3 linked regions of the Homo sapiens genome follow. The protein of the gene in region 1 interacts with the protein of each later gene in a pairwise test. Each region holds a gene or a part of one and is shown in the gene's direction. Other genes may lie near its edges.

The links.
Region 2: the proteins of SGK1 (region 1) and CETN3 interact in binary tests that used the Homo sapiens proteins (3 or more experiments, as listed by UniProt).
Region 3: the proteins of SGK1 (region 1) and TMEM184C interact in a two-hybrid assay, tested with the Homo sapiens proteins (one large-scale study listed by BioGRID and IntAct).

What each region holds. Positions count from the first base shown.
Region 1 is NC_000006.12:134,308,104-134,311,758, reverse strand, and holds part of SGK1 (serine/threonine-protein kinase Sgk1), read left to right. Parts: intron 1-3,655. UniProt on the Homo sapiens protein: Serine/threonine-protein kinase which is involved in the regulation of a wide variety of ion channels, membrane transporters, cellular enzymes, transcription factors, neuronal excitability, cell growth, proliferation, survival, migration and apoptosis.
Region 2 is NC_000005.10:90,399,634-90,403,288, reverse strand, and holds part of CETN3 (centrin-3), read left to right. Parts: intron 1-3,655. UniProt on the Homo sapiens protein: Plays a fundamental role in microtubule-organizing center structure and function. As a component of the TREX-2 complex, involved in the export of mRNAs to the cytoplasm through the nuclear pores.
Region 3 is NC_000004.12:147,620,321-147,623,975, forward strand, and holds part of TMEM184C (transmembrane protein 184C), read left to right. Parts: intron 1-3,513; coding exon 3,514-3,644; intron 3,645-3,655. UniProt on the Homo sapiens protein: Possible tumor suppressor which may play a role in cell growth.

The sequences.
Region 1 (3,655 bases):
GCGCCCACAACACAGCACATGGTCCCAGTGACACTGCATTGTTACATTAGTACTGCTTATTCCTCTGTAGCTCCCACAGGGCAGGAAGGTTTTTTGTTTTGTTGTTTTTTCATACAGTCTCACTCTGTCACCCAGGCTGGAGTGCAGTGGCACCATCTCATCTCACTGCAACCTCTGGCTCCTAGGTTCAAGCAATTCTCCTGCCTCAGCCTCCTGAGTAGCAGGGATTACAGGTGTGCACCACCATGCACAGCTAATTTTTTTGTATTTTTTTTTTTAGTAGAGACAGGGTTTCACCATGTTGGCCAGGCTGGTTTCCAACTCCTGACCTCAGGTGATCCACAAGCCTTGGCCTCCCAAAGTGCTGGGATTACAAGCATGAGCCACCACAACTGGCTGGAAGGTCTTTAAGGACAGAAAACCAGTTACCTTGTTCACTGTATCCCCTACTTGTCAAAACATATTTGTTGAATAAAAGAATGCATAAAATAAAAGAACAAATCCTTCTATTACTTGCCCCTAAGTCATTGCCCTCTTCTCCTTCCTCCTCCGTCTTCCTTTAAACAGGCTTTGGTGGCTCAGAAATCTAATGCATTTTATTTCTCTCTATGTTTAGATATGGATTAGATATAAATTAAGACTGAAATGTAACCTAAATCTGGCTCAAAGACAAGCTGTCACTTCCCCTTCAGAGCTGGTGGGTACTTAGGGAAGCTTGACCTCAGCTTATTTGCTGATCCAATGCCCATAACACACCTTCTCTTCTATGATACTTTTCTTGTCAGGCCAAACAAGACAGACGTAGCAGTGATTCACTAATCTCCTTTTATTTTGCATTAATATGAATTACTAACTTCAGTAATATATAGTAGGCTGGGCACAGTGGCTCACACCTTTAATCCCAGCATTTTGGGAGGCCAAGGCAGGCAGATCACCTGAGGTCAGGAGTTTGAGGCCAGCCTGGCCAACATGGTGAAATCCCGTCTCTACTAAAAATACAAAAATTAGCTGGGAGTGGTGGTGGGCACCTGTAATCCCAGCTTCTCAGGAGGCCTAGGCAGGAGAGTCACTTGAACCTGGGAGGCGGAGGTGGCAGTGAGCCAAGATCACGCCATTGTACTCCAGGCTGGATAACACAGTGAGACAGCATCTCAAAAAACAAACAAACAAACAAAAACTATATAGTATCTGCATTATGTATCCTCCCAACTAGAATCCTAAAAATGTCTTTCAATTATTACTTATCCTCACTTTTCAGCATGGTCTTAGGAGCCACAGAGTGTGAGTAAGACGGATGCCTTTGGCACTTTGACCACTAAGTCTTAGAGAGTTTGGATGAGGGAGTTCAGCAGTCTAGGTTTGGCAGTGCTGGGGAATTAGTCTCAGTACTGCAGAATGTGGATGATGAGCCATTTTCGTTAGATAGATATTTTGCCTCCCCAGCAGCTCTCAAGAAAATCCTGAGATAGGCTCTTAGCTACAGTGCTTGGGAGGGATTTTGAATGGAAAGTGTAGCTGAGTTCCTTGAAATTCTGCACCATTTTTTAAAGGGCTGGTGCTGAAATGCGGGTGCCATATGTAACACTGGAGTAAGAGATATTCTGAGCTCACCCATATTTTATGATCTGTAAGTGCTTAACAAGGTAAAGCAAAACCAAAATGAGGGGGCAGGAGTGAGGAACGTGGGGGGTGGAGCCATCAAAATGCATGTTGGAGATTTCCGAATATGAAAGCATAAAGGCAGGAACAGTAATGGGAATTGGATCAATAGAAAAGTTTAATTAGTAATTTAGGTCAAGCTAAAGATAGTTCGCTAGAGCAAATATTGTAGAAGCATATTTTTAAAGTGTGATTTTTTTTTACATACTAGTTAATTTTTTTTAGAAATAAGTCCAAAAATAAAGGTAAATATCAACATTCCTAACATTGGCAGAAAAGACTCCTGACTTATGAGTGGGATGCTGTTTCCTGCCTGCTAAGGAAAGCTAGGATTCCTAGCTTGTCAGCTTGTTTGAGCGTGAAATCATTGGCTCCTCACCAACCTGGGGATGAAGATTTTTATCCATTCTATGGGGCTCAAGAAAGTTCAGCTCGCAGGGTAAAAAGAGTCTTCGAAGAGCTTTAACTGAAGGGATACGCAGTGTCTCTATAGAGATCCACATCCTCTGTAATGGGAAAGCAGGTGGTTCTGGACCTCACTCTCAGTGAATCCTTCTGGCCCAGAAATGAGGACAGCAGCAGTGACCTACCCTGGTCCTTGGTCTAAGAGCAGGCTTACCCAGCAAGTGGCCAGGTTTCTCTGGCAAACTGCACAGTGATGCTGGCAAATTTATAAAAGACCATGTGGGAAAGTGGAGGAGAAGGAGGTGGAGGAGGTGAAGGAGGTGCAGGAGGAGGAGGACAGGAAAAGCAGACAGTAAGGCAAGTTCGGTGCTGCGTTGGCCTCCTCCTGCAGCTGCCATGGCATGTGGAGAAAGGATTATTATTATAGTTTGTTTACTCTCACATCTATTTCTCTGCAGCATTCTGAAATGACATTGTAAGTATTTACAACAAAGGGAAATGAAAATCAAAGATGTAACTAGAGCAGTAGAGGAATCTTCTATTTGGTAGTTCGAGGTGCCAAAATATTACTCTAATTGCTTTCTAGAGCCTGCTGTGACGTTTTTCGGAGAAGAATTCACTTAGCTACTTCTGTAACATTAGGGTAACCTTGGCCTCTTTTTCCCTCCTAGGTCAGGGCATTCACCCAAAACGCCATTTGCTTCGGGAAATGACTGGTCATGTGGTTCTTCCACTTTCTCTCTCCTGTCTCTCTCTCTTTCTCTCTCTCTGTTGTCTCTGGAGGATAAGCTCACAGCAAGGCAAAAGAGAAAAGCATGAAGTGAAATATTCCTAGGCTTGCCGGGCACGGTAGCAAACGCCTGTAATCCTAGCACTTTGGAAGGCTGAGGCGGGTGGATCACCTGAGGTCAGGAGTTTGAGACCAGCCTGGCCAACACGGTGAAATCTTGTCTCTACTAAAAATACAAAAATTAGCAGGGTGTGGTGGCGTGCACCTGTAATCCCAGCTACTCAGGAGGCTGAGGCAGGAGGATCACTTGAACCCGGGGGGTGGAGGTTGCAGTGAGCTGAGAGGGCACCACTTCACGCCAGGCTGGGTGACAGAGAGAGACTCTGTCTCAAAAAAAAGAGAAGAAACATTCCTAGGATTGTGCCCATAGAAAACAAAGGATTCTCGTTCTAACCCAGTGGCTTAAGGAACATCTTGCTATCTCTGAGTTTGTTAGAGTGACATCAGCCAGTTTGAAAGACCTTGGTAGCTCAAAGATTTTAGTCTCTAGAAATAGCAAGGTGAAAAAAGAAAAGTCCCCCAAATTGTTAAAACATATTTAGACTCAAGTCCCTGTAGGACAAAAATTAAAATATGCCAGAGGGGAAAAATGAAAGTTAATAGTTTGAGAATTAAAAATAAATCGGAATATGTATTTATAATGTTTATTACTCAGAAATGTGATCTTTCCCATAGAATGATCTTTCCGAAAGCAGCTGAATTTTCTTTGAACTCTGAATCTTTCTGGGCCAGTATTTATTTAGGTTGTACTGTAAAAAAAATTACAGGAAAAAAACGATGAGTACATAGCTTCCGGTGTGG
Region 2 (3,655 bases), on another chromosome or scaffold:
ATCACTGACCACAGATTAATATGTTTTATACTTTGGGACAGATGATTCTAAATCATAACATTTGAGTCCTAGTTTTATGAACTACCCAAGGACACTGTTCCACAGATATATCTGGATGAAGTTTGGCAGTTAACTATTATAGACTCTTCCTAGTACTGGAAAAAAGCTTTAAAATATATTTAATTTAAGTTTAGAGTCAAGACAGCCTGAGGCTAGTGAGTAACATAGATATTTTAGGAATTAGTGTCTTTAAGACTAACATAAGTCAAACGTTTGTACACTATTTTTGACATGTACTACTTATTATTGCTGATTGAGATTGTAATACTGTATTATTGTCTTCATTTTGCTTATTTAACACTGAATTTTTTGGTATTAGGTACTGTACTGGGGTTGGGAAGAAGACTTAATTAAAAGTTACTAAAAGGTTCTTCTTTCAGGGAGTTTACAATGTAAATATAGGTGACAACAGGCTATAGTACTATGTGGTAAATTGTAATTTTGTCTAGGACAGAAGTCAGCAACTATAGCCTTTGGACCAAATTCAGCTGCTGCTTGTACACCACCACACCCCTTCTTTTATGCAGCTTTTGTGCTACTATGGCAGAGTGAGTAGTTAGAGACTTTATGGCCCTCTACAAAGCCTAAAATATTTACTATTGGCCTTTTACAGGAAAGATTTGTTAATCCCTGATCTAGAGGAATTGAAGTCTTTGCAGAGGAGATTTTAAATTTAGGCCTTTGGAAATGTGAGTAAGATTTCATTCCAAGATTGCCAGGAAGAGTAGAGAAAAAGCATTCTAGGCTTAGAAAGCAGCAACAACAAAGAATGGTACTAGACGGATAGCATGTTTGGGAAACTAGGTAGTGTTCTGGGCTAGACATAGGGAAATGACTGGAAACATAGGATTGGGCCAGATTGGTAAAGTCTTGCAAAACATGAAGATTTTGAATTCTAGTCAGCAGAGATCATTCACAATTTTTAAGGGAAGGGGATATGATATGTTTGAGAAAGAAAACTGATGAGAGTATTATTGATGATGAGTTGGAAGGAAGAGAGACTGCAGACAGAAAATACTATTTTTTTCGCTGAGGATGGCGAGGGTGAAAAGAAAATACATTTAAGAATAAAAAAGAGGCTGGGCTTGGTGGCTCATGCCTGTAATCCCAGCACTTTGGGAGGTCAAGGCGGGAGGATTGCTCGCTCACAGGAGTTTGAGACCAGCTGGGGCAACAAAGTGAGATCCTGTCTCTACAAAAAAATTTTAAAAAATTAGCCAGACATGATGGCACATGCCTGTAGTCCCAGCTACTTTGGAGGTTGAGGTGGGAAGATTGCTTGAGCCCAGGAGTTGAGGCTGCAGTAAGCTGGGATCACGCCATTGCACTCCAGCCTGGGCAACAGAGCGAGACCTTGTTTTAAAACAATAAATAAATTAGAAAAAAAACAGTATTCTCAGTACTATAGGACCTGATTAAGTTTGTGGGACTGAAAATGATTTATGCTTTTCAAATATGGAATCTAGCTGTAAATGTTGCTGTTATCTTTTGGTTGGGGTAGGGGAGGCAGCTGCAGTTACTATGGTGGTAGTGGAATGAGTTTGGAGTCCAACATGTCTAACTGGTATGTTTGGATAGAAATTTCCGAAAGACATTGAGAAATACAGTTAAAGCTGTATTTCTAGCATTACCTATAATAATTTTTAATTTACTTTTGATGTGATGTTTTTGGATTTGCCGTATTCTTAAGTGATTTTTACACATTAAAGGTCTAAGAAAGTATTTTGATGAAGTACATTTCTGATAGTATGTGTAATTAAATCATTTGAAAATACAGTTGCATGGACAGAAATTTGGAGTTTTGTGAAATAAATGAAACCCACCTTAACTGCCTCTATATCAGTTTACTAATATTTTCATTGAAAATAAATATATTCCTTATAATTAAATTCTACTTTGTGGAACAAGAATAGAACCTGAAGGCATGGAGGAGAGTCATTATAAAGTTATATATTAGGTAATGTTTTTGCTGTCCAAAATGATGAGCATTTATAATTCCCAAGAAAAGCTGCATTTTAAGGAAGAATATTGATAAAAGAATATATAGACACATAGCTCTGAAATAACTAACACAATTAAAGTACCAGTGGGATAAGAATTTATACATCTTGGAGCCCCATCTGTTCCCCAATCACCCTGTTGCTTCTTTAAGTACATTAATACTTTCAGCAAGCTGCTTTTTTGGTTCACCTGTCATGTAAATTATTTAATTGGTGAAGAAAATTTCTTAACACTTTTTTTCCTTGTCCTGCTTTTTTGTTGGGACTAAATTCAAAATAAGTTGAGTATGTGCCATAGAGTTAAGTGTGGTATTTTATTTTGGTGTTATGGCTGTAGATATGCCAGCTTCTTTTTGACTGAATATTTATGAGCTTTGATGATTTGCATACTTACAGTAATATACTTCAATTAGTTACTTGGAAGCCTTTTTGGATAAAATTAATGGATAAAAGGAAACTATTGAAAATATGTGTAGATGATATAATAGTCATTTGAATAGGTGATTATTGAACCAAATACGGGTGAAACAGCAGCAAAACAACAGCTTGTTGGAGACTTCGATTGTATTTTTTTCATTCTGGGTTCCTTAAACATTCCAGTATTTTCCATCTATAAGCAGTTGCTTTTTTTTTTTTTTTTAATGATTCTGTAACCTTCAACAGGACCGAGTTATTTTTAATAGCATAGTAAAGGCCATAAATACCTTTTCTTGTAGTGGCAGATAGTGTATATAATTACTTCAGAGATACTTATTTAGATACTGTTAGAATTTTATTTAGTAACTTACCAATTTTTATGCCATAGATTTTTATTTTAATTTTTATTGTGGCTATTGATTAAAGACTGGTAAAATTGAAAATACTTAAGCTTATTACTATGTTATTACATGTGATTATATTTAGTGTATTAAAATACACAATTACCATTGAGGTTTGAAACTACATTTATTTTTAGTTAGTTGTCTGAGAGTGATTTATCCAAACAAAATGGGTAAGCTTTAAGGAGACCTTCTTTGCAGAGGTTTTTTTTGGGTGGGCTTTCCTGCTATAGTCAGATTTGATCCTATTTACTACTTTGTAAATTTTGGAAAACCAAGAGGTTCTTCTAATCACAAAGGTATTAGTGGAATTTTCAAATGCTGTCTGAGATTGTGCCTGTGTCTGCGATGGCAGTACTTTTTGTCTCTTGCAGTTTTTCTTGTTTTGAAGTTGGATTAAATTTGAGGAAGAATCAGTGTTAGTATGACGTTTAGTCAGCAAGCAGCTTTTATTTAGTTAGCTCCAATTATTTTGTTGGTATGTCTCTCCACAGGTAGATGACACACTCCTTGTGTGCTTGATGTCAGTGGAGCCTAGTACAATTCTTGATAATAGTAGATCTTAAATAAATATGGTATAAATGTAGTCCTTTTTATTTTGCCTCTGTGTGATATAGTTTTGCTTACTTTTATAATAAGACAAGTTGCTCATGATAAAAAAGGTTAACATTTAAAATATGGATTTGATTTTTCTAATTTCAGGTTTATCTCGGGGTTTGGGGATCTCATTTGACATTTTATTGTCAGACTAAAAGTTGACAGTCACAGCTTTAATTC
Region 3 (3,655 bases), on another chromosome or scaffold:
CTTTGTATACTATATGAGAGAACATTACCTCCATAGAACTTGGTGGAGACAAAAGGGACCAACAAAAACAAATCAATAAAATTGTATAAAATGCTGTGGAGGAAACCAGAAAAGATCTGAGAAGTTACCATGCAGGGCAGTCTAATTGCATAACTTCAAAAGACCACTCTACCAGCTATGGAAAATAAAGCAGAAGTGAAGGGAAGTTAGAAAGCTCTTTATGGTAGTGAGAGGTGTTGGGTGCCTGGGCTATGATGGTTTATGGCCCCGGTAAGGATAGCAGGAGTGGAAATGGAAAACTGAATTGTAAGTATCCTTAGAAGTGAGCAAACAAGACGTAGCAGGAAGATTGGATTCCAGAGGAGAAGCAGTGAGAGAAAGGAACAAATCAAAGATGATTCTGAAGTTTTTTGTTTGAACAACTGTGTAAATGGTGGTGCTAGTTACTGAGATAGAAAATTGAGGGTTAGGAACAGGTTTGAGAGAAATTGAGTTCTGTTATGGACATTTAGTTTAATAAGAGACATTCAATAGGCATGTCAGATATGCTGTTGGATATGCACATCTAATGCTCAGAAAGATATGAGCTGCAGATACAAATGTGAGAGTTTATCTTGGTGTCCCCAGGCTGCCGTGAGAAAATACCATAGCCTGAGTGGCTTAAACTACAGAAATTTATTTTCTCACAGTTCTGGAAGCTCATCCCATGCCCATGGTGGGGCATATACCCATTTATTGGAATGGTAGGGTGACCATCTGCACTGTTTAAACTATTTTTCCCACTCACTTGGCTGACCATGTATACCTGAAGTGAATGTGCATGCTGCTCTAGTCTTTTTACCTCAGCACACTTTTTTTTTTAACCTCAGCACATTTACCTCATGCCCTTAGGTCAGTTCTACTCTCTCCCCTCAGGAAGACCTGGCCCAGAAAGCACTCTCTCCTATTCATCTCCACTCTCTGTTTTGAAGCATTTTGCTGAGGGAGAGTTAACTTATTCTTGGATGCTTGTCTTTAAGGGTTTTTTCTTTCCTCTCTTCTTTCCTAAAGTTACCCATGAAAAAAAATCTGTTTATCTCCTCCTCATTTCGTGAGCCCAAAAACTCAACTCATGGCTGATAAAGATTAAGAATAATATTACTGGTATCTACATCAATGTGTCTCAAATTTGAATAAATTATTTAGAGGTAAACATAAAATTAAAAAATTATATTGATAATTTCTGCAGATAGCTAGTGTTGAGTTATTCTATTACAATGTTACTTAAATATATACACACATAAAATAGGTTAAATTTCTTGTGCATGTAACTTTTATATAGCTCAAAAATCAAAACAACTGTAAAACCAATAATTAAAATTAATGACATTAATGTGGAGAGATGATGTTTTTCTGAAACTAAATTACCACTTGCACTGTAAAAATGATATTATGTGGTACAGGATTTTAAAATTTGGCCTGCAGTGACCAAGTCTCTAGTCACTTGTTTTATGATTGTTTAAAAAACAAAAACAACTTTCTTCTTTATAGCACACTGAGGACACTTGACCTTCATTAGTCACAAGCACATCATTTTTCTCTTAAGTGTACCACCAAGTTCTAGTTTTTGGAACTAAAGCAATCAAAATAAGCAATTACTTGGCAATACTTTTTTTTCTTTTTTTCTTTCTTTTTTTTTTTTTGAGCCAGGGTCTCGCTCTGTCACCCAGGCTGGAGTGCAGTGGCGCGGTCATGGCTCACTGCAGCTTTGACCTTCTGGGCTCAAGTGATCCTCTGGCACCCGGCTAATTTTTTGTATTTTTTGTAGAGATGGAGTTTTGCCATGTTGCCCACACTGGTCTCACACTATTGGACTCAAACCATCTGCCCTCCTCAGCCTCACAAAGTGTTGGGATTACAGGCATGAGCCACCGCGCCTGGCCGCAGTACCATCCTTTATAATAAAGGAGATCTAGAATATGCTTATCCTATTATTATTTTCTTAGATCATCACTGAAATTTCACTTCCCTTGGTTTCAGTAACCTGTTGTCCACCATGGTCTGAAAATATTAAATGAAAAATTTCAGAAATAAGTAATTTGTAAGTTTTAAATAACTTATTACAATATATAATTGTTCTATTTTCTTGTTAACCACTTACTGTGTGTCCAATTTATGAATTAAACTTTATCATAAGTATATATGTATAGGAAAAAACATAGTATATGCATATAGGATTTGGGACTATCTATAGTTTTAGGTATTCACTGGGGGTCTTGGAACCTAATCCCCACATATAAGTGGGGACTACTGTACTCAATTTTAAATGAAATGGATAAAAGCAAAAAGCCCTGTAATATGAGTGCTCAGACATTCCTTTTAGAGTCTTACGTCCATATATTTGCTTTTCATTTACTGTTTGATTAACGCCCCCACAATCAGTAAGACTTTGTATTAGCTTTTGGTTTGTTTTTGTTTTTGAGACAGGGTCTCACTCTGTTGCCCAGGGTGGAGTACGGTGGCACAAATCATGGCTCACTGTAGCCTTGAACTCCTGGGCTCAAGCAGATCTCCCACCTCAGTCTTCCTAGTAGGTAGGACTACAGGCACATGCTTCCACGCCTCGCTAATTTATTTTTTGTAGAGATGGCATCTCGCCATGTTGCTCAGGCTGGGCTGGATGGAACCCCTGGGCTCAAGCAATCATGAGCCACCTCACTCAGCCCTTTTCAAGCTTTCTATACATTTTAATGTGGAAATTTGTTGTTGTAAAAATGCATTTGTTCTCCATACTTTTGTTTTCTACCTCTTTTATCTTTGGCCCCTGGTAGAGGAAGAAAAAGTCCTGTTCAAACAGTGAAACTGGGCCGTGCACGGTGGCTCATGCCTGTAATCCCAGCACTTCAGGAGGCGGAGGCGGACGGATCACTTGAAGTCAGGAGTTCCAGACCAGGCTGGCCAACAGGGCGAAACCCCATCTCTACTAAAAATACAAAAAAATTAGCTGGGTGTGTAATCCCAGCTATTTGGGAGGCTGAGGCAGGAGAATCGCTTGAACCCCGGAGGCAGAGGTTGCAGTGAGCCAAGATCGCGCCGCTGTACTCCAGCCTGGGCAACAGAGCAAAACTGTCTCAAAAAAAAAAAAAGAAAAAGAAAAGAAACAGTGATACTTAAGGTTGTAGACCTTAGTTCTATTTTAATTGTAAACTGCTCAACCCTTCAAGCATCAAAAATAAATGCCCACCTTTTCCCCTTAAAAAAAAAAAAAGATTCATACTCTTCAAGGCAAGATTACAAGTTAATATAAAAGTCCCCCCTCCCCCACAAATTTTTTTCAATTTTTTAATTTTTTTTTTTTGTAGTGACGGGTTCTCACTTTGTAGGCCCAGGCTGGTTTCAAACTCCTGGCCTCAAGCGATCCTCCCACCTCGGCCTCCCCAAGTGCTAGGATTATAGGCACAAGGCACTGAGCCTGGCCAAGCTCTTTTGTTTTAATATCAGAATTTATATTAACATGTTATTTTGTTTCTTAAGGTTGGAATACACACCAAGGCTTGGTTTATTGCTGGAATCTTTTTGCTGTTGACTATTCCTATATCACTGTGGGTGATATTGCAACACTTAGTGCATTATACACAACCTGAACTACAAAAACCAATAATAAGGTATGTCTTAA